2 separate regions of the Homo sapiens genome follow, and region 2 is linked to region 1. Evidence: fine-mapped expression QTL. A gene starts in region 1. The other region holds a variant in brackets. All regions are shown on one strand. Distances are from middle to middle.

What was found. PIP is the estimated chance that this variant, and not a neighbour inherited with it, causes the effect. A credible set is the group of variants that fine-mapping cannot tell apart.
Region 2: its variant is the best candidate, but not a certain one, in a credible set for the expression of SPOCD1 in atrial appendage (GTEx, PIP 0.87).

What each region holds. Positions count from the first base shown.
Region 1 is chr1:31,809,981-31,825,547 of GRCh38, forward strand. It overlaps SPOCD1 (SPOC domain containing 1), which reads right to left and starts at 6,042. Exons shown (of 16, transcript NM_144569.7): 1 at 5,981-6,042; 2 at 3,971-5,392. The coding sequence starts at 5,353.
Region 2 is chr1:31,834,277-31,849,843 of GRCh38, forward strand. No RefSeq gene overlaps it. Among named protein-coding and RNA genes, the nearest start is that of SPOCD1, 26 kb to the left of the region's middle. RefSeq lists silencers at 457-526, 4,056-4,239 and an enhancer at 14,510-14,559. The variant G/A (reference allele first, on the strand shown) is at 6,431.

The sequences.
Region 1 (15,567 bases):
AGCACTGCCCTCTTCCTAGCAAGCCTCTCCTACTTTCTCACCTGCTGAACACCTACTTCCCTTGCCTAGACCCAGTTTAGACAGCCCCCTCCTCTGCCCTCCCCTCCCCTCTGGACATCCACAGTCCACTGGGCTTCAGTCTGTATTTCAATTCTCTGGTTAGTGGTTTTCTCCTCCCACTAGACTGTAAGATCCCTGGACGAGCCCCCTCCTTGTTCAACAAATTATAATAAAGCCCCGTGAACAGTCAAGTTATGCAGGACTGGAGTCAAACCCTGGCTCGGCCACTTACTCGCGATGTGGCCTGAGTGAGTCACTTAACTTCTCGGAAGCCCAGTTTTCTTACTTAGTAAAATGGGGATATTAGTGTTGAATTTTTTTTTTTTTTTTTGAGACAGGGTCTCACTCTGTTGCCCAGGCTGGAAGGCAGGGGCACCAGCACAGCTTACTATAGCCTTGACCTCCTGGAATCAGGTGATCCTCTCACCTCAGCCTCCTGGGTAGCTGGAACTACAGGCACAAGCCACCATGCCCAGCTAATCTTTGTATTTTTTCTACAGACAGGGTTTTGCCACATTGCCCAGGCTGGTCTCCTGAGCTCAAGCAATCCACCCGCCTTGGCCTCCCAAAGTGCTGGGATTACAGGTGTGAGCCACCACGCCTGGCCGACATTGACCTTTAATGGTTAATGTAAGGATTAAATGAGATGACATACTTGAAGCTCTCAGTCTATAGTAGGCACACTAATGAAACGAGCTCCTCTTAGGCTGCTCTTCTGTTAGGAAGACACTCTCCTCCTTCACTCACCTCTTGACACTTTGCAGCTACAGACAGCATACCTTGAACCAGGGATTCTGGGTCAGGCCAGAGGAGCTGTGTGCCTCCCTGGTTATGACTGGTGGAATGTGAGCAGCCCAGGGTCACTGGCAGAGTTGCCCCACACACACACACCCACTGCTATCCCACCCATAGAGCAGCTCCAAACCTCACTGGCCACTGTGGGGCCCAGGACGGACAAGAGAATGGCATCCAGTCCCCCTCCCATCTCTCCTCCAAGAGTCTCTGGTTCATGCCAGAAGAATACAACACGGCCAGCCTCTGATATCAGACTCCTGGCAGTTCTGGGGCCCACTTCATTCTCCCCACTTCATAGAGGAGGCAACTCAGATTCAGAGAAGAGACATTTCTAAATGTCTAAAGTCTTTCTGCAGCCAGGCGCAGTGGCTCATGCCTGTAATCCCAGCACTTTGGAAGGCCGACGCAGCGGATCACCTGAGGTCAGGAGTTTGAGACCAGCTTGGCCAACATAGTGAAATCCTGCCTCTACTAAAAACACAAAAATTAGCCGGGCATGGTGGCCCACACCTGTAGTCCCAGCTACTCAGGAGAATCCCTTGAAACCAGGAGGCAAAGGTTGTGGTGAGTCAAGATTGTGCTACTGCACTCCAGCCTGGGTGACAGGGCGAGACTCCCATCTTAAAAAAAAAGTAAATTAAAAAAAAAAAAGTCTTCTTGCCACTGAGCTTAAGAAAGGAAGAAAAAAAAGTTAAACTCATCTAAATGTCTGAAGACATGTCTAAAGTCACCCTGTACTAAGAGGCAGAGCTTGACCTTGAACCTGTCTGCCCCTGCCACAAGCCAGGCTGTCTCCAGGGGAAGGTGCTAAGGCCCTAAACGGGGCTCCAGACCAGCCGGGCACTGTGCCCCCCATTGCCCAGGCCCCACTCAGCCCTGTCTGCAACCACCCGCCTGTCCCTGTCACAGCCCAGACTCAATTCTTCTCCCGCAGCTGGTACTGGTTGTCATGGCAACGAGTTGTTTGGAAAGCTGTGGGATGATGGGCTGTGCCGCAGTCAAGGATGGAGCCTGGAGGAGCCAGCAGTCATGGGCTGCTTCCAGTCAAGCCAGGCAGGAAGCTGGCTCCACCACCGCACTCAAACCAGCCCCCTTAAAGGCTGCAGACCCAGGAATCCCAATTCTGGGCATCTGGTCCAAATAAATCATGTGAAGAAGGGAGGAGCCAGACGCACAAGGATGGTCACCCCTGCACTACTTACAGCAGGACGAAATTGCTTATGTCACTAACAGGTAACCTATTTGAGTATTTTTCTTGCACCAAGCACTGTGTTAAATGCCAAACATGTGTCATCTCATTTCATCCTCACCACCTCCCTAGGAGGTAAGCACTCTTCATACCCACATTTTGCAGATGAGAGAATTACACTTGAAAAGGTGAAGCCACTCACCTCGGTTGTTCAGATAGTGGCAAAGTCAAGATTGAATGTTAGCCTATTGGCCTCCAGGGCTCATGCTCCTCACTACACTACAGTGGTTGGAAATGAGAAGAGGAAGTCCCAGCCCTCATCCCGACAGCGCCTGTGCCTGCGACAAATACATCCATAGACAGCTATGATGCAGGGCTCAGGAAAAGATCAAATTCGGCAGAACAAGGTGAACCCACTGGGAAAGACCTTCAAATACTACGGAACTTACAAAACCAAGCAAAGTCCTGGAACAATAAGGCATAATAGGAGCCTATTTATAGGTAAAAAGGCTTGATGCATAGTGGAAAACAGCTCACTGGTTCTATTTTACTAATTGGCTGTTTGGCCTTGAGTACTCATGTCACCTCTCAGAGCCTCAGTGTTCAGATCAGTGAAATGGGTATATGTCAATAGAGTCTACCTCATAGGCTTGTTACAAAGATTGCAGATAAAGTGCTTAGCCCAATATCCAGCACATGTTAAGCAAGCCAGATGCTGTTACGACTGTGCCGATAACACAGAAAATACACAGAGAAGGCAGTGCAGTGAGCTCTCAAGACAGACCGCCTAGGCTTGTAGCCTTGCTCCCATTCACCAGCTGGGTCTGTAACCTCACCTCCGTGGACGTCGTGTGAAGATTAAATCAAAAACATCTAGCACATCATGCATATTCAATAAATGTGATGAAAATCCAACTATGTGAGAAATATACACCAAAAACAAGTAGAGTCTTCTTCTGCCTTTGGTGTATAAATGTTAGCTATGATTATTAATAAAATGATGATGATTATAAGTAAAAGAACAAAGGAAAGGGAAGTGGTGATATAGGGAACATGGCTGGTCACTGACTCCCCAGCTATGTGAGCCTGGAGAATATTATTAACCCTCCGAGCCTCAGTTTCCCCATCTGGTTATATGGGGCTAACGCCTATCTTACAGGGTAACTGTGAACACTAAAGGAAAAGCAAATTTAACACGAATTAAGCAATTTACCTTGTGCCTTGTGCTGTGCTAGGCACCTTTTTTTTGTTTGTTTGTTTGTTTTAGACAGTCTTGCTCTGTCACCAGGCTGGAGTACAGTGGTGCGATCTCAGCTCACTGCAACCTCTGCTTCCCAGGTTCAAGTGATTCTCCTGCCTCAGCCTCCAGAGTAGCTGGAACAGGCATGTGCCACCATGCCCAGCTAATTTTTGTATTTTTAGTAGAGACAGGGTTTCACCATGTTGGCCAGGATGGTCTTGATCTCTTGACCTCGTGATCCGCCTGCCTCTGCCTCCCAAAGTGCTGGGATTACAGGCGTGAGCCACTGCACCAGGCCTAGGCACATTATTTTATACCATAATCTCATTTAATCCTTGAAACAACCCCATGAAGCTGCAATTAGTATCCTTTTTTTACAATGAGGAAACCTAGAGAGGTTAAGAAAACATCCCACAGTCATTCAGCTAGGAAGTGGGCAGAGGCAAAATTCGAACCCAGGACTCACTGACTCCAAAAGATAATGACCCCTCACAAGGATTCAGCGAATGTAGTTTATTTTCTCTTTCCCAGTTTGTGGGCCTCATTTTACCCAGTTTAGTTAATAGGGATGTGAGAATGTTCATGAAGCGCCCATCTAGCTTAGCTTTATTAAATTCCACTGCCAAGTATGGTATTGAGAAACATGGCCAGGCCCTTCCTATCCCAAACTCTCAGACTCAGCTCACCAGTCTGGGGCAGCCTCCTGGGCTGGGTTCCTCTGGCCTGTCCTGGTGGGAGTTGTCTGAGCTTCTGTCTGTGCCCCGGTCTTGGGCACAGGGCACTGGACCTTTCTTCAGGTTCTTAGTGCCCTTGGATCTTCTCTGCTCCATGAATGGGCCTGAGCAGGCCCTGCTGGCTTCAGTATCCAGGGAGGAGCTGAGGCCGCCCAAGGGCTCCCGGGAGCTGGCACAGGTGTCAGCGGGGGCAGCGAGTCCTTGCTCCAGCCTTCCCCTGGAAGCTGGCTGAGCCTTGGCCTCCAGCTCCTCCTGGTCCTGTGCTGGAGCCTGGCCTTCATCGCTGCCAGTCCGCACGACACACACAGCTTCTTGCTGCTCTGCAGAGGCCTGTGCTGACGCCCCCAGGCACAGTGCTGCGCTCTGTGGAGGAGCCTGTGCAGCTGAACTGAGGGACTCCCCTCCACTGGGCACTGGGAACCCGACAGGGCCACAGGGGCTGCCTGGCTGGGGCCCATCCCCTGTAGCGGGCAAATATCCAAATTTCTCAGTCCCTGAGGCACATCCTGCCCCACTTCCACCTGGCTCTCCAGGCCCAGACCCAGTGTCTTTTGGAGAGGGAGGTCTGCAAGGGCCTCCCAAGGACTCCAGGTCAGCAACTTGGGGAGGGTCTCCCACAGACAGGAGGTTGTCCCCACGAGGGCTCTGATCAAGCCACAGGAAGTCACCAGCCCCTTCCTCACACTCTGAATGAGCCCCTTGCCTCCTCCATTTCTTTCTTACCCTCACAGGGACTGGGTCTGGTGAGGATGTCAGGGGCCTTCCAGGGGGCTCCTCTTTGCTGAGTGTGGGGCTTCTTCTGTCACACCCTGGAGAACTCATTCCACCGTCTCTGGCCTCCCTGGGCCTGAGGCAGCTCACCTCCTCCACTCCTGCAAGCCTCTCCCTGCAGGCCAGAGCTCTCTCTGGGAGGCCAGCAGACCTGCTACAAAGTTTCCTGGGGCAACTGTCATCTAAGATGTCACACAGAGAAACCTGGAGCCTCTTGGAGGTCAGAGCTCTCCCCTGAGTAGGCACCGAGGGCAGCTGCATGTGGAGCCCAGGAGCCAGCATCGAGCCCCGGCTCTGTACCACAGCTAGCAGCTCCAAGACCCCTGGCCGGACCTCAGCAGCACCTGCAGCCCGGGAGCTGCCACCTCGAAGGGCCTCCTTCCTGGGGATCTTCCTTCTGCTGCCAGCCCTGACTCCGGGCCCAGAGCTTGCTCCCGGCCCATCTGGTGACAGGCCTGGCATGGAGCTGGCTCCTTCCATGTTCTGTAAAAGCTCACAGTTGTGTTGGGGACTGAGCACAGGGTCTCCTGTGCTGGGGCCTTCTACGTCCCCCGCCTGGGACATGTCTGTCCACCTACCTGGGCCAAAAGCACAACACGGGCCCTGTGTGGAGACAGAAAGAGGAGACTTTGTCTTGGAGAGTCCGACCTGTCAGCCCGTTCAGTGGGAACTGGGAGGAGCCCCTCTTCCAGCCAGCTCTCCCAGACCCTTCCACTCCTGAGGCCTAGGGGTGAGCACTCCAGGGAGGGGAGCACCCAGCAGGAGCTGGTGTCCTGGGTGAGGGTGGAGAGGCCTGCCTCCAAACAGGGCCGAGCTACAGTGGCCTCCAGGGTCTTCTTGTCTCTGAGAGTTCACACATTCGCTTAAATGGGACCTAATAAGATACCATTTATTTATGACTTATGTGCTTATTTCATTTCATACTGGCAGCCACAGGTGAGGACACTGAGATTCTGAGATGTTAAGACACTCACCCAAGGAAGCACAGGAAGTGGAAGGGCCAGGAGTCTCTCTCCCAGTTCTCACACTGCGCAAGGAGCAGATACTGAACGGGGTTCGTGCCCATAACCCTTCTCGTCTCTCTCCCATCGGTCCCGTTCTGAAAGGCGCCCCACCCAGGTTCCCAAGCCTTACTGGGACAGTCCCCCAGCATCCAAGAAATCCGGGCCCCATCGGTCGCGTCGCTCTCACCTGGGCTTCCCTGAGTTTTCCCTCCTGGGGTTCCACCCACTAGCTGAAAAGGAGCTGAGATCACGTGATGCGGGGGAGGGAGGCCCTTGCTGAGGGATAGGGGCGGAGTCCCTGATGATGAGCAAAAGGCTGCTCCCCAGGCGTGCTGGCGTTCCTGCCCCGGCAGAGGGCGCCCTCTTCCTCCTGAGGGCTTCCTGGAGGAGGTGCCAATCCTGGCTCCCAAGCAGAGGTAGGTGGGTGCATGGGGCAGCGAGGGGCCTTGGCTGCCTGCCTGAGAGTTTAACTTGATCCTACCGCAATAGTCCCTGAGCCAGTAGGACAATGTCAGAATTACCTAGATTTTTTGCCTAATTTTATTTTATTTTATTTTTAAACTTTTATTTTAGGGTCAGAGGTCCATATGCAGGTTTTTAATATAGGTAAACTTGTGTCACGGGGGTTGTTGTACAGATTATTTCGTCACCCAGTTATCAAGCCTAGTACCCAATATTTATTTTTTCTTATCTTCTACTGCCTCCTACCCTCCACCCTCAAGCAGGCCCCAGTGTCTGTTGTTAACCTCTTTCTGTCCATGTGTTCTCACCATTTAGCTCCCACTTATAAGTGAGAACATGCAATATTTGGTTTTTCCGTTCCTGCATTAGTTTGCTAAGGATAATGGCCTCCAGCTCCATCCACGTTCCTGCAAAGGACGTGATCTCATTCTTTTTTATGGCTGCATAGTATTCCATTGTGTATATGTACCACATTTTCTTTAGCCAATCTGCCATTGATGGGCATTTAGGTTGATTCCATGTCTTTGCTATTGTGAATAGTGCTTGCCTAATTTAAAAAGAAAATCTCAAATATAATTAATGTAGATGGAAATGCAGAATCAATTCCAATAGAAGGTTAGAAATAAAAAGTTTAAAGCTATCTCTCATTTCCCAATACCCCAACTCCTGGAAACAACTGTGTTTTGTTTTTTGTTTTTTACCATGTTTGTCATCATGTTAATTTTTTAAATTTCATAACTGTAAATAATATACTCATGCCTCTATTACTTGATTTATTAATTTTAACTGTGTCTGTTGTATCTGTTGACTTCCTGCTGTGGTGATTTTATTAACCACCCTTTCCCCCTTTCTCTTCCGCTTTTCATATATATATATATATATATATTTTTTTTTTTTTTTTGAAACAGCGTCTCGCTCTGTCGCCCACGCTGGAGTGCAGTGGCACAGTCTCAGCTCACTACAACCTCTGCCTCCCAGGGTCAAGTGATTCTCCTACCTCACCCTCCCGAGTAGCTGGGACTACAGGCACGTGCCACCATGCCCTGCTAATTTTTGTATTTTTCGTGGAGACAGGGTTTCACCATGCTGGCCAAGCTGGTCTCAAACTCCTGACCTCGTGTTCCACCCACCTCAGCCTCCCAAATTGCTGGGATTACAGGCGTTAGCCACCGTGCCTGGCCCTCTTTTTTATATTTATATTTTAAATTTTACTATTGGTTTCTATTATCACTTTGAATACTATTCTTAAATGTCTGTTTCTTCTGTATATTGTATCTCTTGACTCTTCTCTGTGTGAAATGGATAATTTCCCTTGATGTCCCCTCCCTGCTTCTGCCGTTATCCATGAACTAAGCTTTTATTTTTGTATCGCTGAGGTTTATAGCATTTACATTCTATTCGGTAAAGATAATTCAGTTTACCGTTGTTTACCTGTAGATTGATTCTTAACACTGAAAGCCAAATGACATTTATAATGTTATGATTATGTAAATACTTTTACTGCAGAAACAGTGGTGTTTGGCTTTTTTTTTTTTTTTTTTTTTTTTTGAGATAGGGTCTGGCTCTGTCGCTCAGGCTGAGTTGTGGTAGTGTAATCATAGCTCACTGCAGCTTTGACCTCCCAGGCTCAAGTGATATTCCCCTCTCAGCCTCCTGAGTCGCTGGTACTACAGGCATGCACCGCCATGCCCAGCTAATTTTTTTTTTATTTTTGGTGGAGACGAGGTCTCACTATGTGGCCCAGACTGGTCTCGAACTCCTGAGCTCAAGCGATCCTCCCATCTTGGCCTGGGATTTCAGGCGTGAGCCACTGCACCCGGCCAGAACCAGAGATTTGATAAGTCTGATTGCGAGGGAGATGGAATTCCCTGGCACTAAACCTGTGCCAGGTGAGACTGTGAGAACCTTCCAGGCCAATGGAATACTAAATCACAGTTAGACTCAATAAATTAGATCTATATATCAACATGAATGTATCTCAATGATATAATGTGGAATTTTAAAAACAGCATAATATGAATAACAAGGGAAACCGAGTCTGGAGTACACAGGAACTCCCTGTACTAATCTTCAGATTTTTCTGTAGATCTAAAACTATTCTAAAAAACAAGGTTTATTACAAAAAACAAACCAAGCTATTGGGTAATCCATATTGAAAACTGTCATGATCTGGCAGTCAGAGTCATAGATGAGGTAAGAGTAGAGACTGGATGTCACCAATGACCAAAATTACTGCTCTAAGGAAATAGTTTTTGTAAATGAGAAGCCCTCCCTCTAAGGAATGTCTTGGTCATGATGGCAGAAAGTTGACCAGGTTCCCTAAGACCAGTGAACCAAGCCATTCTGGTCCATTTGGATAATGGAAGTCTCCCACATTGGGCAGAGAAAACGGGAGTGGAGATGTTGTCAGTTCCACATGGTATAGAGATAAAGAATGGCTAACACTTACGTAGTGCTGTTTTGAGCCAGGGACTGGTCTAAATGCTTTACCTATATTAATCCTGTATTTGCCTGTATTAATTTACCTATATTAATCCTTACATCAAGTCTGTGAGGTAAGAACTGTTATTATCCTTATTTGACAGATGAGGAAATAGGCCAAGACAGATTAAGTAATTTGCTCAAGATTAGCAAGGACTGGTTTTAGAAGCCAGCCAGTCTCTGGCCAGTTTCTCTGTCTCCTGGTATTCTATTTATTTATTTTATTTTTATTTTTTTGTTTTTTTGAGACAGTCTCACTCTATCACCCAGACTGGAGTGCAGTGGCATGATCTCGACTCACTGCAACCTCCACCTCCCGGGTTCAAGCGATTCTTCTGCCTCAGCCTCCGGAGTAGCTGGGATTACAGGCGCACGCCACCACACCCAGCTAATTTTTGTGTTTTAAGTAGAGATGAGGTTTCACTATGTTGGCCAGCCTGGTCTCAAAATCCTGACCTCAAGTGATCTGCCCGTATCGGCCTCTCAAGGTGCTGAGATTACAGGTGTGAGCCACTGGGCCCAGCCTTTCTCCTGGTATTCTAAAATGTCTCTGTCATAAAAAAAAAATAAAGTAAGGTTTTGCCCAGGTTTTGGCCTAATGCTATTTGCCTCATCATTAGCTGTTTGCTCCATTGACTCATGACAGCACCTCTGCGATATACCTGGTTCCCATTAAAGAATGCAATTTATTTCTTGGCTTTCCTTTTTTTTTTTTTTTTTTTTTGAGATGGAGTTTCTCTCTCATTGCCCAGGCTGGAGTGCAGTAGCAGGATCTTGGTTCACTGCAACCTTCGCCTCCTGGGTTCAAACGATTCCCCTGCCTCAACCTCCCAAGTAGCTGGGATTACAGGTATCCACCACCATGCCCGGCTGATTTTTTGTATTATTAGTAGAGATGAGGTTTCACCATGTTGGCCAGGCTGGTCTCAAACTCCTGACCTCAGGTGATCCACCTGCCTCGGCCTCCCAAAGTGCGTGAACCACCACACCTGGCCTATTTATTGGCTTTCTTTTCTCTTCCATTGATCGATTTGTCTATTCTTGATCAATATTGTTTTAGTTCTATGGTTTTGTGATAAATATTGCTATCTAGGGAGCAAGCTCCACCCCCTCAACTTGGTTTCTATTTTTTATAATCGTCTTAGCTAACTGTATACCGTAGAATCATTTTGTCAAGATCCTTGAAAAATTGTGCTGGGATTTAAATTAGAATTTCATCGAATTTACAGATTAGGGATAAAATTGAATAATACTGAGTCTTCTCATCCATAAATGTACCTTATTTCCATTCTGCCAGGCCTTCAATTCATTTTTGTGATTTTTCTTCATCAAAATATTGCACATTTTAATTAAATTATTCTATTCTTTAATATTTTTATTGCGTTTTCTTTTTTCTTTCTTTTTTTTCTTTCTTTTTTTTTTGTTGAGATAAGGTCTCGCTTTGTGTACAGGCCGAAGTGCAGTGATATGATCACCTGGGCTCAGATGATTCTCCCACCTCAGCCTCCTGAGTAGCTGGGACTACAGGTGCCTACCACCATGTCTGACTAAATTTTTGGTTTTTTGTAGAAACGGCATCTTGCTATGTTGCTCAGGCTGGTCTCAAACTCCTGGACTCAAGCAATCCTCCCACCTCGGCTTCCCAAAGTGCTGGGATTGCAGACATGAGCCACCATGCTGGAGGCGGTGACTCACGCCTGTAATCCCAACACTTCGAGAGGCCTGGGCGGCAGATCACCTGAGCCCAGGAATTCGAGCCAGTCTGGACAACATGGTGAAGCCCTGTCTCTACAAAAAATACAAAATTATCCAGGAGTGGTGGCATGTCCCATACTCCCTGTAGTCCCAGTTATTGGGAGGCTAAGGTGGGAGGATGGTTTGAGCCCAGGAGATGGAGGCTGCAGTGAGCCAAGATTGTGCCACTGCACTCCAGCCTAAGTGACAGAGTGAGACCCTGTTGCAAAGATATTAATAGTATTCTCATGATTCAAAAATCTCTATTGTATTGATTACAGTCCCCTTTTAATTCCTAATACTATTTATTTGTGCTTGCTCTCTCTCAGTCATCCTAGGGTTTTTTGGTAAATCAGATTTTTGCTTTTTTATCTCTGTTTTTTATGATGTTGTTATTATATTTTCTATTTCACCATCTTCTGGTTTTACCTTTCTTATTTACTTTCTTCTATTTCCTTTGGTTTACTCTTGTTCTTTCATTTTTTTTTTAAGAAACAGGGTCTTGCTCTGTTGCCCAGGCCGAAGTGCAGTGGTGTGATCATAGCTCACTGCAGCCTTAAATGCCTACTAATTGGCCTCAAGCTAATTTTTAAAATTAGTTTAAATTATTTTGGAGAGATAGAGTCTCACTATGTTGCCCAGGCTGGTCTCAAACTTGTGGCCTAAAGTGACCCACTCCCAACACTTTGGGAGGCCAAGGTGGGAGGATCACTTGCACCCAGGAGTTTGAGACAAGCCAGACAACACAGTGAGACCTTGTCTCTATAAAAAATACAAAAATTAGCCAGACATGGTGGTGCATGCGTGTATTCCCAGCCTAGAGACAGGGTGTCTAGGGAAACAAAGTATTAGTGCCTAACATTTCTATTTTTTGTGAAGATGAAGTCTCTCTATGTTGCCCAGGCTGGTCTTGAATTCCAGGGCTCAAGCAATCCTCCTGCCTCAGCCTCCCAAAGCACTGGGATTACAAGCATAAGCCATCACACCCGGTGGCTACCTGTTATTATTAAAAATAAATGTAGTTTCAGGCCAGACATGGTGGCTCATGCTTGTAATCCCAGCACTTTGGGAAGCCAAGATAGGAGGATCACTTGAGGCCAGGAGTTCAAGACCAGCCTGGTCAACATAGTGAGACCCCCATCTCTAACTGAAAATAAATAAATCATACATAAATAAATGTTTCAGCCAGGCATGATGATGAACGTGTATAATCCCAGCTACTCTGGTGGCTGAGGCTGGAGGATCCCTTGAGCTCAGGAGTTTGAGACCAGCCTAGGCAACATAGCGAGACCGTCTCTCTATTGAAAAGAAAATGAAAATATACTTTTACTGCATTGTGATCAGTTAAAATTGTCTACATAATGTTGCTTTTTTTTTTAAGTTTTTAAGATTTCCTTTGTGATCTGATATACTGTCATTGTTAATATTCATTGTATGCTTGAAAAATGATTGAAATTCTCAGTTTAATAGTTTAAGCTTTTCCTTTTTTTTTCTTTTTCTTTTCTTTTTTTCTTTTTTTTGAGATAGAGTCTTGCTCTGTCACCCAGGCTGGAGTACAGTGGTGCAATCTCGGCTCACTGCAACCTCCACCTCCCAGTTCAAGCAATTCTCCTGCCTCAGCCTCCCGAGTAGCTGGCATTACAGGCACCCGCCACCGTGCCCGGCTAATTGTTGTATTTTTAGTAGAGACGGGGGTTTCACTGTGTTGGCCAGGCTGGTCTCGAACTCCTGACCTCATGATCCACTCACCTCGGCCTCCCAAAGTGCTAGGATTACAGGTGTGAGCCACGGCACCTGGCCAACAGTTTAAGCTTTTCTTACCTCAAGCTTTTTACTCATGTTTTTCAAATCCATAGTAATCTATAGTAACTTGAATCTACAGAAATCAGTGTTCAATGCAGAAAACAAAAACTACTCTAGATATTTTAAGCACAATGAGGTTTAATACAGGGCACTGGGTGTTTCAAAAGTCACTGGGAGGCCAGGCACAGTGGCTCACGCCTGTAATCCCAGCACTTTGGGAGGCCGAGGCGGGTGGACTGCTTGAGCTTAGAGGAGTTCAAAACCAGCCCAGGCAACATGGCAAAACCCCATCTCTACAAAAAGTACAAAAATTAGCCGGATGTGGTGGCGCATCCCTGTAGTCCCAGCTACTTAGAAGGCTGAGGTAGGAGGATGGCTTGAGCCCAGGAGGCAGAGGTTGTAGAGAGCCGAGATCGCACCACTGAACTCCAGCCTGGGTGACAGAGCCAGACCCTATCTAAAAAATGAAAAAAAAAAAAAAAAAGTCACTGGCAGGCTATAGGAGTGGACCCGAGGCTGGGCCTAGAACACACATTAGAACTGTATTTATAAATACACTGCTAGGGTAACAATACAAAGGTCTAATACAGGCACTGCCACTGCTGCTTCTACTGCCCACATACACAACACTAGGGGCCAGACATTGATGCGGGCAAACTCGATAGCTCCACAGTTGTGCTTGGAAGCAGTAACAGCCCACGGAAAAGGACAATGGTCTTGGCCTCTCATCTGCTTTTCAGATCTTGCACAATAGCAGTAAGTGTTGGAAAATAATTCACATCTGAAACACTCATTGTAAGGGAATCTGTGAAAGAGTTTTGGCTTTCTATCCTCTACAGGAAGGCATACTAGGATGTGGAGGATTGCTTGAGCCCAGGAGTTCAAGGCTTCTGTGAGCTATGATAGCACCACTGCACTCCAACCTGGGTAACAGAGTGAGGCCCTGTCTCTAAAAAAAACTTTTAAATAAAATTTTAAAAAATCGGCTGGGCACAGTGGCTCACGCCTGGAATCCCAGCACTTTGGTAGGCCAAGACAGGCAGATCACTTGAGGTCAGGAGTTCGAGACCATCCTGGCTAATGTGGCGAAAACCTGTCTCTACTAAAAATACAAAAATTAGCTGGGCATGGTGGCAGGCACCTGTAATCCCAGCTACTCGGGAGGCTGAGGCAGGAGAATCGCTTAAACCCGGGAGGCAGAGGTTACAGTGAACCAAGGTTGTGCCACTGCACTCCAGCCTGGGCAACAGAGCGAGACTCCATCTCAAAAAAAAAAATGTTTTAAATCTCACACAATTATTACGAACGTGTCAATTTTTTCCCTTTACCTCTGTAAGTTCCTGCTTTATATATATTTAAAAACACTTTTTTAGGAGCATGCAAATTCATAAATTTTTACATCTTTTTTGGAGATTATAACTTTCATCAGTGCCAAATGTGCCTTTTCTTCCTATTAATGTTCTTCTGCTTTAATTCAGTTTTTCTGATATTAATATTGGTAACTGCTTCCTTGTGGTAGTATTTAGCTAATATAGTTTTGTGGGGTTTTTTGTTTTTTTTTTGTTTTTCAGAGACAGGGTCATGCTGTGTCACCTAGCTTAAGTGCAGTGGCATGATTACAGCTCACTGCAGCCTCTAACTCTTGGGCTCAAGTGACCTCCTGGGCTCAAGTGATCCTCCTGCCTCAGTCTCTCAAAGTGCTGGGAATTCAGGTATGAGCCACTGCACCCTGCTCATTATTCATTTTTTACAGAGGAGGAAAGGTGGGCTTCAAATCCATGACTTGCTAGGGATTGCTCCGCTGGAGATAAGCGGAACTATGTCCAACCTCAAGTCCAGCTCCATCCAAAGTCCCTCCGCCAGACTGTATTCCCACAAGGGCGAGAACCAGACTGGGTCTGCCTTGTTGGCCAGCTCATTCACAGGGCCTAAGGTGGTGCCTGTCGTTTAATATGAAAACACACCCAGAGGCAGTCAGAGAGGGAGGAAGAACACAATGGCACGACTTCGAGGAAGCCAAGGAAAGACTGTTTGGGGGTTTGTGGATTTTTTTTCCCTGATAAATTATTTATTTTGGAATAATTTTAGACTTACAAAAAAGTTACAAAAATATAAGAAGTTCCATCTACCCCTCACCTATTTTCTGTCATTGTTAACATCTTCTATTACTGTGGTCTCTGCGTAAACTAAGAAACCAACATTGGTACATTACTATTAACTAAACTCCAACTTTATGTGGATTCCACCAGTTTTCCCCTTCAGGTCCTCTGTCTGTTCCAGGCTCCCGTGCGGGCTACCACGTTGCATTAGCTACCATGCCCTTAGTCTCCTCTGATCTGTGACAGTTTCTCAGTCATTCCTTGTTTTTCATGACCTTGACAGTTTTGAGGAGTAATCGTCAGGTATTTTGTAGAGTGTTTCTTAATTTGGATTTCCCTGATGCTTTTCTCCAGATTAAACTGGTCTCAGGGGTTTTGGAAAGAATGCCGCACAGGGAAAATGCCTTCTCACATCAGAGGAGGGGGTGCGTGGTAGCCACAGGTGATATTAACCTCCACCGCTTGGTAGAAAGTGCTTTCCAGACTTCTCCACTGCCAAATTACTACTTTAAGAATTTTAAAGGCTGGAGACAGTGGCTCACGCCTATAATCCCAACACTTTGGGAGGCTGAGGCGGGCAGATCATTTGAAGTCAGGAGTTCGAGACCAGCCTGGCCAACATGGCAAAACCCCGTCTCTACTAAAAATACAAAAATTAGCTGGGCGTGTTGCCGGGCATCTGTAATCCCAGCTTGTCGGGAGGTTGAGGCAAGAGAATCGCTTGAACCCAGGAGGTGGAGGTTGCAGTGAGCTGAGATTGTGCCACTGCACTCCAGCCTGGGCAACAGAACGAGACTCCATCTCAAAAAAAAAAAAAAAAAAAGAATTTTAAGGTAGAGAGAGGTAGTGTTTTCAAAGAATATTGAATGATGTGGAGGAAGTGTCATAATGTGCTGTTAAGCAAAGGAAGAGAATGGAAGGAAATCCACCAGAATGTTGACAGTGGCTCTTTCTCAATTGCTTCTTTTCTCCTCTTGCATTTTCTTTTTTTTTTTTTCTTTTCTTTTCTTTTTTTTTTTTTTTGAGACGGAGTCTTGCTCTGTCGCCCAGGCTGGAGTGCAGTGGCGTGATCTCGGCTCACTGCAAGTCCCGCCTCCCGGGTTCACGCCATTCTCCTGCTTCAGCCTCCCAAGTATCTGGGACTACAGGCATCCGCCACCACGCCTGGCTAATTTTTTTGTATTTTTAGTAGAGA
Region 2 (15,567 bases), 24 kb after region 1:
GCCACTGCACTCCAGCCTGGGCAACAAGAGCAAAACTCCGTCTCAATAAATAAATAAATAAAAATAAAAATACAAACTTAGCCGGGCATGGTGGTGCACACTTGTAATTCCAGATGCTTGGTGGCTGAGGCATGAGAATTGCTTGAATCCAGGAGGCAGAGGTTGCAGTGAGCCAAGATCATGCCACTGCACTCCAGCCTGGGCAACAGAGCAAAACTCTCCCTAAATGAATTAAATAAATACATACACAATTCCATCACATTGCAGTCCTCAAGGGAGATTTCTGCAAGAGCTCAAGAGCCCTGGGCCAAGGCACTACATGCAAAGGCTCTCTTCCCTGCCACCTGCAACCTCTGCACCTAACAAGCGAGAAGAAATTCATGTTTTGCCCACGCTGAGCAGGATGATCACCTGAGGATACGAGTAACCCATATAGGACTGCTGTCACCAGGTGGGGGCGTTGATCTGACAGCATCCTATAAGAGTCCAGGCTCTCGATTCTCATTCTCTTGGGTTTCAGTCCCGGCTATAGCTTTGGGTGACTCTAGGCCACACTCTTAACCTCTCAAACTGTTAGTTCCTCAGTGTGTGCCCCTTGAATAACATGGGGGCACTGACCCCTGCATAGTCAAAAATCCACGTATGTGAATAACTTTTGACTCCCCCAAAACTTAACTACTAACAGCCTACTATGGACTGGAAGTCTTACCAATAACATGAACAGTTGATTAACACATATCTTGTATGTTTTATATATATTATATACTGTATTCATACCACAAAGTAAGCTAGAGAAAAGAAAATGTTATTAAGAAAATCATAAGGACAAGAAAATACATTTACTACTCCTTACGTGGAAACAGATCATGGATCATCATAAAGGTCTTCACAACCTTGTCGTCTTCATGCTGAGTAGGCTGAAGAGGAGGAAGAGGAGGGCTTGGTCCTGCTGTCTCAGGGGTGGCAGAGGCAGAAGAAAATCTGCATGAGAGTGGACCACACCATTCAAACGTGTGTTGTTCAAGGTTCAGCTCCATATGTATTTGTTTATTTGCGTGTTTATTAGTATTCTTGCATGTAGACAACAGAGTCCACTCTGGCTAGTTTCCGTAGAAGGAAAATTTATTTAGGGATGTTAGAGAAACAGGATCTGGATGCAGCTTTCAAGAGCCTCTCCAAGAAGCATATTGCAGAATCAGACTCATGGAGGACCTGCCACCACTGTCACTGACTCCAGGCCACACTGCTTTAACTGCCACCAGGCTGGCAGAAAAAGGATGCCCTGCACACAGCTATTCCCATGCATAGCTCATCACTCAGTTGGCGTCTCAGGTGGGCAAGGATGATTGGAGGAACCAAGGTCACATGCCTGCACCCTAGCTGCAAGGGAGGCTCACTTGGCTCTGAGGAGGAACTCAAGATATCAGGAATCCCACTCCAACGTCTTCCACTTGATTGCTTTCTTGGGTCCCTAGTAAGTAGTTCGAATGCAAAAGAAGTTGGAAATTTTAAGCTAAAAACAAGTTATGTTAAAGAAGAAAAAATCTGGAGAATTTAATTAGAAGTAGTTCTTCACCAATAGACAGCCAATCAACTGTAAGTTCAGGCAAGCTGTCCTGCTGCATCAGAAACGTTTAAAAACCTGTATTCCCAGCTACTGGGGAGGATCGTTTGAACCCAGGAATTCAAGGCTGCAGTGAGCTATGATCACGCCACTGCACTCCAGTCTGGGCAACAGAGCAAGACCTCTCTAAAAACGAAAAGAAAACACACACACACACACACACACACACACACACACACACACACACACAAAAGGAAATGCTGAAAGGATTGCTTTCTTTTCCACAATAAGTAAAAATCCTCCAGAAAACAAGAGGAAAGGAAAGGGAACCAATACTTGTGTGTTTATTGTGTGCTAAGCATTTTACATGTATTCTTTCTTTTAATTTTATTTATTCATTTTTTGAGACAGAGTCTCACAGACAGGAATTTTTTAAATTGTTGAGCAGCAGTGAAAGATAAATGGTCAGTACAGCTTCCTTCCTGTGTCCCTCAATTAGACTGTAAACTCCAGGTAGGCAGGTACCTTGAATATCTTGTTCATCACTGTATCTCCAGCACCTAACATGGAGCCTGTGATGAAGAAACAGATAAAGGAAACGTAAACAATAATAGAACCACCTCAACTTTGAGGCTTCTGGCCAGCTTACCATCTCTCAAGGGGCTACGTCTCCAAACCTTTGGAAGAGCTCTTCCTTATTCATGGAATGTCCGTTCCTCCACACCCCCTTGCCTGATGGTGAAGTTGTCTCTGTCTTTCTATTCTCAGCTTTGACTCACCTCCTCCTGGAGGGTTTCCTTGATGTACACCTCCATGCCTATCACCTCTGTTGGCATCACCACCACATCCTTGCCCTAACAGCTAGTTTTGTATGGTAGTTAAGAAGGCAAGCTCTGAAGTCCAACTGCCTGATTTCGAATACTGGCTTCAGCTCTTATTGGCTGTTGGTGCTTAGGTAAGTCGTGTGGCCATTCTGAGGATCATTCTCCTCGTCTGTAAAATGGGGCTAAAAATAGTAGCTAAATCACAGGATTGTTGTGGTTTTAAATGAGATAGTATATGCAAGTTCTTAGAATGGGGCCCGGTACAGAGAGAGAGGGAGCGTGCAAACAACCTCTGCTGCTGTTGCAATTCTTTACTCTTCTAGAACTTAGCAGGGCAATATTGTAATTGTTTTCCAGTTTGTATTCCCAACTTAACTGAGGCCTTCTGGAGTCAGGAACTGGAGTGTCCTTTACTCCCATACCTCTTCATGCACCTGCCATCCAGATCAGATGTTCACATAATATTTGTTGTATAAACTCAAAGAAATCACAAATGCAAAGATGGAAAGATAAAACGTTTAGGGTGTGTATAATAGAAAAATAACTAAAACTAAAATGTCACCTGGGAGTGGGGAAAATGGAAAATGGCTAATAGCTACGTGGTGTAAAGATTTTATACACATCAATAAAAAATATCTGAGTTGCTAAGACAGATGGGTACAAAGGTCATGAGCAGGCAATTTAAGTAACTAAATAGAAATAGTAAGTAAAATATGGAAGAATACTCAGTCTTCCACAAATGAGCTACAAATGATAGCAACAGTATCATAGAATGCAGAATTAAATATAGAACCATCCATAACTGAGAAATGTCCAATGGCAGAAGAATGGTTACATAAATAATGATATATTGGCTCAATGGCATGGTGTTCCACCATAAAATAATTATGAAAATGTTGAAACGAGTGTTTATGACATAGAAAGTTTGCAAGCAGATTGCAGAACTAAACTTAAAGCATCATCACCGTGTGCGAAATGTTCATCTGGACTTGATCGAAGCTTGGCAGAGAATATAAGAAAATGAACACAGTTGCCTTGATAAAAGAGAGAAACCTTACTGAGTGCCCCCATAGCCCTGACTCCATGCCCAGGGCTTATACACATACGATCTCACTGAATCCTCCAGTTCTCCCCAGCTCCCTGTGAGCTAAGAGTCATTCCCCTTTACAGGTAAGGCAGCTAAGGCAAAGAGAAGGGCAAGAAAACCTGCCTGAGGTGGTGCAGGCAGTAATTAGCAGAGAGGCGTGCCAACCCTGGTGTGTTGGACTCCATGTTCGGTGCTCTTTCCAACTCATCAGATGTGTAAGATGGATGTGATCCAATAGTTTTATTTCTCTTTAAACATTGCCTTTAGTGCTGTTTAAATGTCACTTGCGCAATTAAAACACAATTAAAAGAAAAACCAAAGCTGTCTCAGGAAGGCAGCTTAGTCTCTGTTCCTCCAGAGAGCTCCATGGACCAGAACCCCACCCTGCTCCTGGTCGACACTCATGGTTTTGCCCAAACAATCCCAGGACACAGCCCTGCTGAATTTTCTGTCCCTCTTCATTGGATTTAAAGCCCACAGGAGGCATCTGGCATTTCCTCCACCCCTCTCACCAAGACTCTCCTTTCATTTGAAGGTGCCCAGGAACTCTAGTTACCCGTGTCATGGGGACCCCAGTACTATTGTCAGTATTTCAGAAAGCCAAATAGAAATTGTGCTATCATCCTAACAAGGCCTTGTGGGCTGACAGAGTGCCCCTACTGTCCATCCTTGGATGAAAATGTGTGCTGACCCTGTGCGCCAGGAAAAAACGTACAGAATCCCAGGTTGCTGAGTTTAGGGGAGTCAGGGAGGTCTCCCTGGGGAGTGGACTTTTCCAGCTGAGATCTGGAGGGTGAGTAGGAGTCAGCCAGGCGAAGAACAGAAGAAAGAGGCTCACTCTGTTGTCCAGGCTGAAGTTCAGTGGCACAATCATAGCTCATCATAACCTTGAAGTCAAACCAAAAGTAACATAAAAGAGAACGCACTGATGCAACACGTAAGATAGAAATGAAGAAAGAAAAATTAAATGAGAAAAAAATTTTAAAGTTTAAATGATAAGAGAGAAAATGTGAGACCCTGTCTCTAAAAACAATAAAATAGGCCGAGCACAGTGGCTCACACTTGTAATCCCAGTACTTTGGGAGGCAGAGGCGGGCGGATCACCTGAGGTCGGGAGTTTAAGACCAGCCTGACCAACATGGAGAAACCTCGTCTCTACTAAAAATACAAAATTAGCCAGGAGTGGTGGCACATGCCTGTAATCCCAGCTACTCGGGAGGCTGAGGCAGGAGAATCGCTTGAACCCGGGAGGCGGAGATTGCGCCATTGCACTCCAGCTTGGGCAACAAGAGCGAAACTCCGTCTCAAAAAAAAAAAAAAAGCCCTGAGGCAGGAAAGATGGGGAGCTTTCAAGAAAATGAAATGAAAGACGCACTGTGGACCATGTGTGGAGGCTCACGCCTGTGCTGGCTCACTCCCAGCACTTTGGGAGGCTGAGGCGGGCAGACCGCTTGAGGTCAGGAGTTCAAGACCAGCCTGGCCAACATGGTGAAACCCCATTTCTACTAAAAATACAATGACCCCAAAAAACCATATACACATGTCAAAGTCACTGAAGAAGGAAACTCAAATAATGGTATCAAAACAATATTCTATAATATAATGATCCACATCAAAATATATTCTATTGGCCAGGCACAGTGGCTCATTCCTATAATCCCAGCACTTTGGGAGGCCGAAGTGGGTGGATCACCTGAGGTCAGAAGTTCAAGACCATCCTGGCCAACATGGAGGAACCCCATCTCCACTAAAAATACAAAAAATTAGCTGGGCGTGGTGGCACATGCCTGTAATCCCAGCTCCTCCGGAGGCTGAGGCACGAGAATTGCTTGAATCCAGGAAGCAAAGGTTGCAGTGAGCTGAGATTGCACCACTGCACTCTAGCCTGGGCAACAGAGCAAGACTCTGTCACACACACATGCACACACACACACACACATATATATGCTATTTAAAAAGTATTAGATTTTAAAGTTAAGAAAGATTCCTTTGAGAATCTAAACATAAAGGAACAAGTTACTTAAAAATCCCAGGCTGGCCTCTGGCTTCTTTACAGCAACATCCAGCATTAGCATACAATAGACAGATACCTACAAAGTCATCAAGGAGAGAAAGTGTGACTCAAGAATTTTATTTTCAGCCAAACTGTTGTTGAAGGAGAAAGGCAAAAGACAAAATTTTTGAACATGTGTGGGAAGTTTGGAGGCTGAGGCAGCTGCACAGTCTGGATTTGTTGGAAGAATAGGATTTTTTTCCTTATGGTGACCCAGAGTTTTACTTAGGGGTTCATTCACACATTTATCCAACAGATTTTTTTTTTTCTCTCTCTCTCTCTTTTGAAACAGGGTCTTGTTCTGTTGCCCAGGCTGGAATGCAATGACGTGATCACGGCTCACAGCAGCCTGGACCTTCTGGGCTCAAGCGATCCTCCCACCACATTCCCCCAACCCGAGTAGCTGGGACCACAGGTGTGTGCCACCATGCCGGGCTAATTTTTTTTTTTTTAATTTTTTGTAGAGATGGGGTCTCCCTAGTTTGCCCATGCTGGTCTTCAACTCCCCGCTCAAGTGATCTTCCTGCCTCAGCCTCCCAAAGTGTTGGGATTACAGGCATGAGCCACCATGCCTGGCTTAAACAGATTCTTAAAGACTAGAGAAGGTGTTGGGCCCTGTGTCCGGAACTGTCTTATACCAAATGCTAAGAAGGGTGAGGGGAAAGTGTCTTTGCAGAGATGAGTTGGCCTTTGAAGGTGAGTCAGAGTAACTGAGAGGAAGGGGATCCCAGGCAAAGAAAAGGGCATGAGCAGTCGGGCGCGGTGGCTCACGCCTGTAATCCTAGCACTTTGGGAGGCCAAGGCGGGTGGTTCACGAGGTCAGGAGATCGAGACCATCCTGGCCAACATGATGAAACCCTGTCTCTACTAAAATACAAAAAAATAGCTGGGGGTGGTGGCAC[G/A]CGCCTGTAATTCCAGCTACTCAGGAGGCTGAGGCAAGGGAATTGCTTGAACCGGAGAGGCGGAGGTTGCGGTGAACCGAGATCGCACCACTGCACTCCAGCCTGGGCAACAGAGCAGCCTCCGTCTCAAAAAAAAAAAGCAAAATAAAAAAGAAAGAAAAAGGAAAGGGCGTGAGCAAAGGCAGTGGGCATGGAGGCACGGAGCAGATATTCTAAGGCAGAGGCCAAGCTGTCATCATGGATAGGACCTGAAATGTCCAGGTGTTTGGAATGGGAGAAATGGGTAAACCCGGAAGGCTCAGGGTTGGGAAAGAGGGAGAGAGCCTGGACACTGGTCTTTCAAGAGGCTCAAACTTGGCTGGACGCAGTAGCTCACGCCTGTAACCCCAGCAATTTGGAAGGCCGAGGCAGACAGATCACTTGAGACCAGGAGTTTGAGACCAGTCTGGCCAACATGGTGAAATCCTGTCTCTACCAAAAGTACAAAAATTAGCTGGGCTTAATGGCGCACGCCTGTAATCCAGCTACTCGGGAGGCTGAGTCAGAAAAATTGCTTGAACCTGGGAGGTGGAGGTTGTAGTGAGCTGAGATTTCGCCACTGAACTCACTCCTGCCTGGGCGACAGAGTGAGACTCAATCTAAAAAAAAAAAAAAGCACCAGCACCGCACATGTATACATATGCAACTAACCTGCACATTGTGCACATGTACCCTAAAACTTAAAGTATAATAATAATAAAATAAAATAAAATTTAAAAAAGGCTCAAACTTTATCCCACAGGCAATGTGGAGCCATAGAATGAGTGAAGCAGGAAAACTCAAGGAGACAAGGAGATATCTTGAAACCTTCGCAATGAGAAAAGGTTCGGAGATTTTGTGAGAATTCAGCCATTCCCACAATTGCTTATAACAGTCATACCTAACGGTGCACACTAGAATCATTTCCTGCAAAGTCAGGAACAAGGCAAACTTGCCTACTATTGCTACTTTTTGTTCAGCGTTGTATTGAAGCCTCCCACCAGCACAGAAAAAGAAAGACCTTAAGGATTACTGTGACCATCTACGTATTTTTCATTGCTGAGTCAAAGAAGGTGCTTGTATATTTCCCTCTTTCTTCATCTTTATGTTTTTCCTGGAGTTTTAAATTGTCTTTCTTTTGTTCTTACACTATCTGCCTTTATTACTGAGGGCAGAAACTTCCCAACAAATTGGAAAGGTGGATATTCCTATTTCCTTTCTACAGATAGAGGAGGCTCAGAGGAATTGGCAAAGTCCACAGGAAATACACAGTGGAGCTGGGATTCTTTTTTTTTTTTTTTTTTTTTTTTTGAGACGGAGTCTCGTTCTGTCGCCCAGGCGGGAGTGCTGTGGCGCGATCTCCGCTCGCTGCAAGCTCCGCCTTCCGGGTTCACGCCATTCTCCTGCCTCAGCCTCCCGAGTAGCTGGGACTACAGGCGCCCGCCACTGCGCCCGGCTAATTTTTTGTATTTTTAGTAGAGACGGGGTTTCACCGTGGTCTCGATCTCCTGACCTCGTGATCCGCCCGCCTCGGCCTCCCAAAGTGCTGGGATTACAGGCGTGAGCCACCGCGCCCGGCCGGAGCTGGGATTCTTAATCTGTTTCGTGGGATGACTCTATCAACCTCTGGGCTGGCCCCGTGCAAAGAGCTGGAGTATGCGTTGGCAGATACAGAGGTGCGGTAGGTATGTCTCAGTTATGCGAACTTCATAAAGTTCACAAAGAAGAGGACAGTTGCAGGAAATCCCAAAGGCCACCAAATGAAAGAAGGTCCTATGAAGCGATGCCTGGAGGCCCAGCCACACTGGCCAACGCTCAGCTCTCCAAAGGGCCGAGCCACCTCTGTGCAGCAGCAGGGCTTTTGGATCTTTATCCCCCTGCCTAGAATGTTCTTCTCTGCTCTTCCTTGGGTTGGCACTTGGGTAGCATTTCCTTGGGTTGCTCAAGGCTTTGTTACCAAGTCAGGGTCCCACCTTCCCTAGGCAGAATGCTTCATGGAGGCTCCCCAGGCCTTGTGCAAATGGGGGTCTATCGTATCAGGTCATCAGACTAGTCCATTCCTGTCGCAGCCTTGGGACTAGTGGACACCATCTCTGGCCCTTGCAGAAATACATGAAATGAAGCACTTGGAAAATTCCATGTTAATCAGCACCTGGAAGCAGAGGACTTCTTTCTGAGCATAAGTGAGAAGCCCTCAAGGGCTCCCAGAAATACCTGGCTCCTCTCTCTCTCTCTCTCTCTCTCTCTCTCTCTCTCTCTCAACCACCACATCTAATCATCTATTTACTCAATACATTGTGTGAGCACTTCCCCGGTGCCAGCCTGTGCTAAGCACTGAACACCAGGGCAGGCTGTTCCTGGCACAAGGGCACACAGCCCAGGGGCAAGTAGGGCTGAGATCCAGCCCGGGGACCGTTTGCCAAGCTGTGGGCCCAGAGAGCAGCATCTGCCCCAAAGGATTCCTTTTTCTAATTCCCTCAAAAGCACTGCATGCGCTGGCTGCAGCCCTGCACATTAATGAATTAAACCCACATGGTCCCTGCCCTTGTGGAGCTCCAGTCCAGTGCAAGACAGACACATAATTAAACAATTAAACATATAATTAGAATTCACCCTTATTTTGCTGGTGAGGAGACTGGGTTTCCTAGAAACTAAGTGACTTAAACAGTTAGTGACAGGGTCAGGGTTCAAACTCTCATCTCCTAGCTCCAAAGCCACAATCTGTTCTACAGCGTGATAGAGGCATTTGAGCTACATCAGTATTCATTCTGAGCATCAGCCCTGATCTCCAGCATTTCAGATTCTCCCTCTTTCTGACCCATTTGATTACAAGCTCTGGTTCCCCTCATCCTGAAGGTCCCTCCTCTTGACCTTGCCAGCTCCTTCAGCTCATCCCAGCCTCTCTCCTCCCTCTGGCTGCCAAACCTCTAACTTGGATCCACCTGCTTCCTATTGCCAAAGCTTGCAACAGTGAATGACTCTTGCAGCTGGTACTTCCTGTCCCAGGCGTCTTTTGGAGCCAGTCATGCATCCCAGAGGCTGGGCTGGGGATAGAACTGAGCAACAGTCCCTGGGCCATACTCAGAATTCCATTCCCAGTGGCAACACAAGCCATCACAAATCTAGGAATAAGCTGAAATGAATAAAATTATGAAACTTTACTGAAGGTCATAAAAGGCGATCTGAATCAACGGAGAGACTTGCCATGCTCCTGGGTGGAAAAATTCAGTACTATAAAGATGTCATTTCTCTTCGGAGTCATCTACAAATTTAATGTGATTCCAATCAAAATAGCAAAGACATTTTTTGGCCAGGCATGGTGGCTCACACCTGTAATCCCAATGCTTCTGGAGGCCAAGATGGGAGGACCGCTTGAGGCCAGGAATTTGAGACCAGCTTGGGCAGCATAGCAAGACCTTGTCTCTAAAAAAAAAAAAAAACAAAAATGTAATTAGCTGGGCATAGGCCAGGCATGGTGGCTCACGCCTGTAATCCCAGCACTTTGGGAGGCTGAGGCAGGCGGATCACCTGAGGTCAGAAGTTCAAGACCAGCCTGGATAACGTGGTGAAACCCCATTTCTACTAAAAATACAAAAAATTAGCTGGGTGTGGTGGCGCGTGCCTGTAATCCCAGCTACTCGGGAGGCTGAGGCAGAATCGCCTGAACCCGGGAGACAGAGGTTGCAGTGAGCCGAGATTGCACCATTGCACTCCAGCTTGGGCAACAAGAGTGAAGCGAAACTCCGTCTCAAAAAAAAAAAAAAAAAAAAAAAACGCTGGGCATGGTGGCAGGAGCCTGTAGTCTCAGCTTCTCAGGATGCTGAGGCAAGAGGCTCCCTTGAGCCCAGGAGTTCAAGGCTGCTGTGAGCCCTGATCACGCCACGTATTCCAGCCTGGGAGAGACAGAGCAATATCCTGTCTCTAAAAAAATTAAAAATAAAGACATTTTAAATGGAATTTGACAAGCTGATTCTCAGGTTAATCCGGAAAGAAAAAAATACAAAGAGAATACACAACAACAGAATATCCAAGAAAAAATTTTCAGTAGTTTTTATTGTGGTAAAATATATGTAACATAATATTTATCATTTAAACCATTTTTAAGTGTACAGTTCAATGGCATTCAGTACCTTCACACTGATGTATAACCACATCACCACCATCCATCTCCAGAACTTTCCATCTCATCTTCCCAACTGAAACTGTGTACCCATAAACACCAACTCCCCATTCTCCCTTCCCCACAAGAAAAAAATTTTAATGAATAAAAACAAGAAAACTGTCAAGCCAGAAATAAAGATACCTTATAAAACAAGATAAATTATATCTATCAATCATAAATGTAGCATTTCAAATCCATGAGGAAAAGATAGACTATTTAATAAATGGCATTAAGACAAATGGCTCTCCAATTTTAAAAATAGAAAATTTGAACTCTACCTCACACCAGACACACAAAGTCCCTTGAATTTAAAGAACTCAATGTAAAAAAAAAAAAACCCATAAAATCATTAGAAGAAAAGTAAGAAAGGTGGACAGATTTGACTACATAAAAACATTTAACTTCTGAATGACAGAAGACTCGATGAGCAAAGTTATAAGATGAATAACAGGCGGGGAAAACAAACCCACCATAGACATGCAGAAATGGAACAAAAACATATCTTGAAATAATAACAATTTTGCTTTTATTTTTCCCACTTCCTCACATCAATCAGAGATTTAAAATTACCTAGGAGAATTTGTGCTTTTATAGCAGGAATATAAAGAGAGAGAAACAGTCAGTGTTTGGATGTCATTGTTTTTTTAACTTTCTGGATAGTCTACTGAAGCCCACATCAGAAATCACACTTTTGAAAGGCAAAGTCTTTTGATTTGCAAGAGGCTGCTTTTGCTGAGAGAAGAAAATGCTCTTGAAAATCAAAAGGGAAGGCCTTGGAGGAAGCTGAAGGTAAAATTTATGCCTTAACGATGGATTGAGAGGGAATGAGAAGACCCAGGTCGTGTCTCCCCTAGGGAAGTAAATGGGGTCACTGAGCTGGGAAAGAGAAAGGCAGTAGGAGTGAGAGTGACCTTCGAAGAGGTCAGGGGGATCCGGGATGGGGAACTGGACCTGTGGGACCCAAGGAGAGGAGTGGAGTCAGTGCCCAGAGACAGCTAAGTCCACTCCGTCACCACTACTGGGGAGCTTCCTGGGGACTGGGCCATCACCAGCAGACCTTCTGTGAGCATTCAGCTGGATACCACAGGCCACCTTGGCTGAAGAGCCACATTAGTCATTGTATTAATCCATTCTTTCATTGCTATAAAGAACTACCCGAGACTGGGTAATTTATAAAGAAAAGAGGCTTAATAGACTCATGGCTCTGAAGGCTGTACAGGAAGCATGGCTGGGGAGGCCTCAGGAAACTTAAAATCATGGCAGAAGGTGAAGGGAAAGCAAGCACATCTTACATGGTCAGAAAAGGAGGAAGAGAGTGAAGGGGAGGTGCTACACACTTTTAAACAACCAGATCTCATGAGAACTCACTATCACGAGAACAGCAAGGGGGATGTCCACCCCATGATCCAATCACCTTCCACCAGACCCCTCCTCCAATATTGGGGGTTACAATTCAACATGAGATTTAGGGGGGACACAAATCCAAACCATATCAGCCATTCAGCTCTGCACTGTCTGACGAGGGCCTTCATTGACAGCTGTCTGGAGTGCTCAGCAGGCGTGATACCTACTCATGTCCTGATACTTTGCTGAGGACCCCCATCCACACTTATCCCTAGTAATGCCTTCCCTTTTCACATGGCTCAGGACATTCACCAGCCTCCCAAACCAAGGGTGGGATCTTTGATACCCACAGAGGAGGCAGTAATATGGAGTGAAGACTGCCTGCAAGCTGTCCTTGGGTAGAACTAGATAATGGTATAATCTACCCTGGTTAAAGTGATCCACAATATATAAAGAGCTCCTATAAATCAACAAAAAGGAGGCCAACAACCTAATAATTAAATTGGCAAAAGATATGGAAAAGAGAATTCACAGAAGAAATACAGATGTCTAATAAGTATATGAAAAGATGTTCAGTGACTGTTCTAATTAGAAAAATGCAAGTTAAAACAACAATAAGATATATTTTGCTTAGCAAACTGGCAAAAATTTAAAAGGCAGATAAGGGAAAAAAGCACCTTCCTTTGCCATTGGTGGAATTATCCATGGGTGAAGGCTTAGTAAAGGGCAATTTTGTAATTCTATTGAAATTTTAAATGTGTACAGTTTTAAACCCAACAATTCCACTTCAACCAAAATGTCCAACCAGGGGATGGCTGAGAAAGTCATGAGCAAAGGGGCCTGTCTGACATGTGTGTGTAGAATGGTTTTGCAACATCATTGTTATGAAAAACTGGATTGGGAGTAAAGTTGGGGATGTTGCCATTTAGGTGGTGATCATGATAGGCTGGACTGAGAACACGATCCTTGAGTGACCCATAAAAGAGGTGAGAAGTGACCCATGCATACTTTTGGGAGAAGACATTCCAGGAAAAGGGAATAGCCAGTGTAAGGCCCTTGGGGGAGGTGGAAGCCCATGCCTAGCATGTTTGGGAAAGTGACGCCACTGTAGCTGGAGCAGAGTGGCAGGGAGGAGGGAGGGGGACTGGGAGGAGGGCACGCCAGGGAGATCCCCAGAGGGGAGGTGGAACCAGTAGGCACATCACTCAGGGCCTTTCAGGCCATCATAAAGGCGCTTTGGTTTTGCTTAGAAACTGGAAGCCACTGAAGGGATTTATTATTTAGATTAAAAAAGCAGAATGTAAAATCAAAGTATAGGATGCTATATTGAAAAAGTCATTTTAAAAGGTTGAAAGGGAATCATCAAAATTGACCACAGCTGCCGAGTTAGGGTGAAGGGATTATGAATTTTTTCCTCTATCCAACTTAATGTTTCTGTGTTGCACGTTTGTGATTAAAATATGTTTCTAAGAGTTTTTAAAGTTGTGGTGGGTTTTGTTTTGTTTTGTTTTGTCTTGAAAAACTGACTCTCGATAGGAAGGCAGAAAACTATTATGAGGGGCCGGGCACAGTGGCTCACGCCTGTAATCCCAGCACTTTGGGAGGCCGAGGCAGGCAGATCACTTGAGGTCACGAGTTCAAGACCAGCCTGGCCAACCTGGCAAAACCCCGTCTCTACCAAAAATACAAAACTTAGCCGGGCATGGTGGTGTGCGCCTGTAATCCCAGCTACTTGGGAGGCTGAGACAGGAGAATTGCTTAAACCTGGGAGGCGGAGGTTGCAGTGAGCCAAGATTCCACCACTGCACTCCGGCCTGGGTGACAGAGCGAGACTCCATCAAAAAAGAAAAGAAAAAGAAAACTATTGTGAAGGAGGAGGAGGTGTGCAAAAAGCAATGGAGTTAGAGGCAGGTGGAGGGTGGGGCCAGGACCGAGACAGAAGTGGGGCCAGGGGTAGGGAAACTGGTACAGAGGTCGGGGGGAGGGAGAGAGGGGGACACTGAGGCAGACAGAGAGATGGGAAAAGTGAGACCAAGAGAAGCAGAGGTGAGAAATAGGGAGAGACAGAGACCAGGACAAGGGCAGGGGCCCGTGGAGGAGGCCACCTCCATGGTACTCCCTTCAGGACCTCAACACCCCATCAACCTCTCGAGACCCCTGTAAGATCCACGGGCCCAGGTGCCTGATCTAGGCAGCCCAGCAATGGCCCATCCTCCAGCCCCACTCCAGCATCTCAGGGTCTGGGAACTCAGGAGCCATCGGTGCTGCTTGGATGACCTTAAGCAGGGAAGTGGCATGACCAAGCTCAAGTGTCACAGAGCCCCTGTCTGCGAGGAGGAAATGGGTTGGGTCCAGGAAAACCACTCTGAGAAATATCGGGTACTTCTAAGAGCAAGGCAGGGCTACAAAGCGCTTTCATATCACCTGCGCGCACACACATGTGTGCACACACGCACACCCACACGTCTTGGGGGGGGGGGCACACATTCGTTACAGCCCACACAGAGAAATTCCAGTATGTGGTAAGGGCCAGAGCTCTTACATCTGCTGGAGGCAGCCAGCAAGGCCAGAAGTGCACCTGCAGCAGGAACTCATCTGCTGAGACACTGTACAGACCCTGGTGGGGCGCTCCTCACACCTGCTTGGCCCAGTTGACTCAGGGCATCCAGGGGGGACAGTTGCATGCACCCTGCTTGAACCCCATTTCAAATGCGCCCTGCAGCTTCCCTCAGCTTTTCTGCCTCCGGGCTTTCTCCTTAGCTGCAGAAGGCCACTCAACCCTCCAGCAGACACAGCTTGGAAGTCCAGGAAGCTGATGTCCCTGCGGCAGCCCTCAGCAATGAGGGACTGGAATCATGGATAAATGCGTCAGCTTTCCTACCTTCTGTGGAACAATTCTGAGGGTATTCCTCATGGTTTCTCTGAGGGGCCCCAGCAGGATATGCCCAGTTGCCTACAGTGGGAACCAGCTCAGAGAACACCCTCGTTGAAGGAATCATTGGTCCTGTGGAGCCCCACGGCCTGGGTGTGTCTACTTGCCTCTTTGCGGTATCATTTACTTGCTTCTCCATCCCCTATATTTCCTGTAGATAGAAGTCCGGCCTCAGGTTCAACTCTTCTGGCAAGGCACCAGAGCAGGCACTGTTGGTGTCCCACCATGTCCCATGGGCCAGTGCTGGAGGCCACCTGCAGACCTTCTGAGTCTTGCAACCTGAGGGCATTTTCTGCTCCTGAGAAGAGCCAGGGAGTTAACAACCCCGAGCAGCCTTTGACTAGCGTTGGGTGGAGATTGGTGGCTAAATAGCCCAGCTTCCTCGCCTCTCTAGGGAAGGTTTCCGACATGTTCTGTATAGCCTTTCAGAGGGTCCCCAGAGGAATGGAGCTCCAGTTCCCGGAGTAAAGACCCACTCATTAATTCACTTTTTATTGGCTTTCTGCCTTTCCCTGCCTCACTTCCCTATTCTCTTAAAGACGGATGCTTTCTGGGATCATCTTCCAAATAAATCACTTGCACCCCGATCCTTTTCCTAGATACAGTCTGCTTTTTTGGGAAATCCAAACTAAGGCAGCCCGTTCTTAGTTTGTACTGCACGTGACACAACTGTAAGGGTTG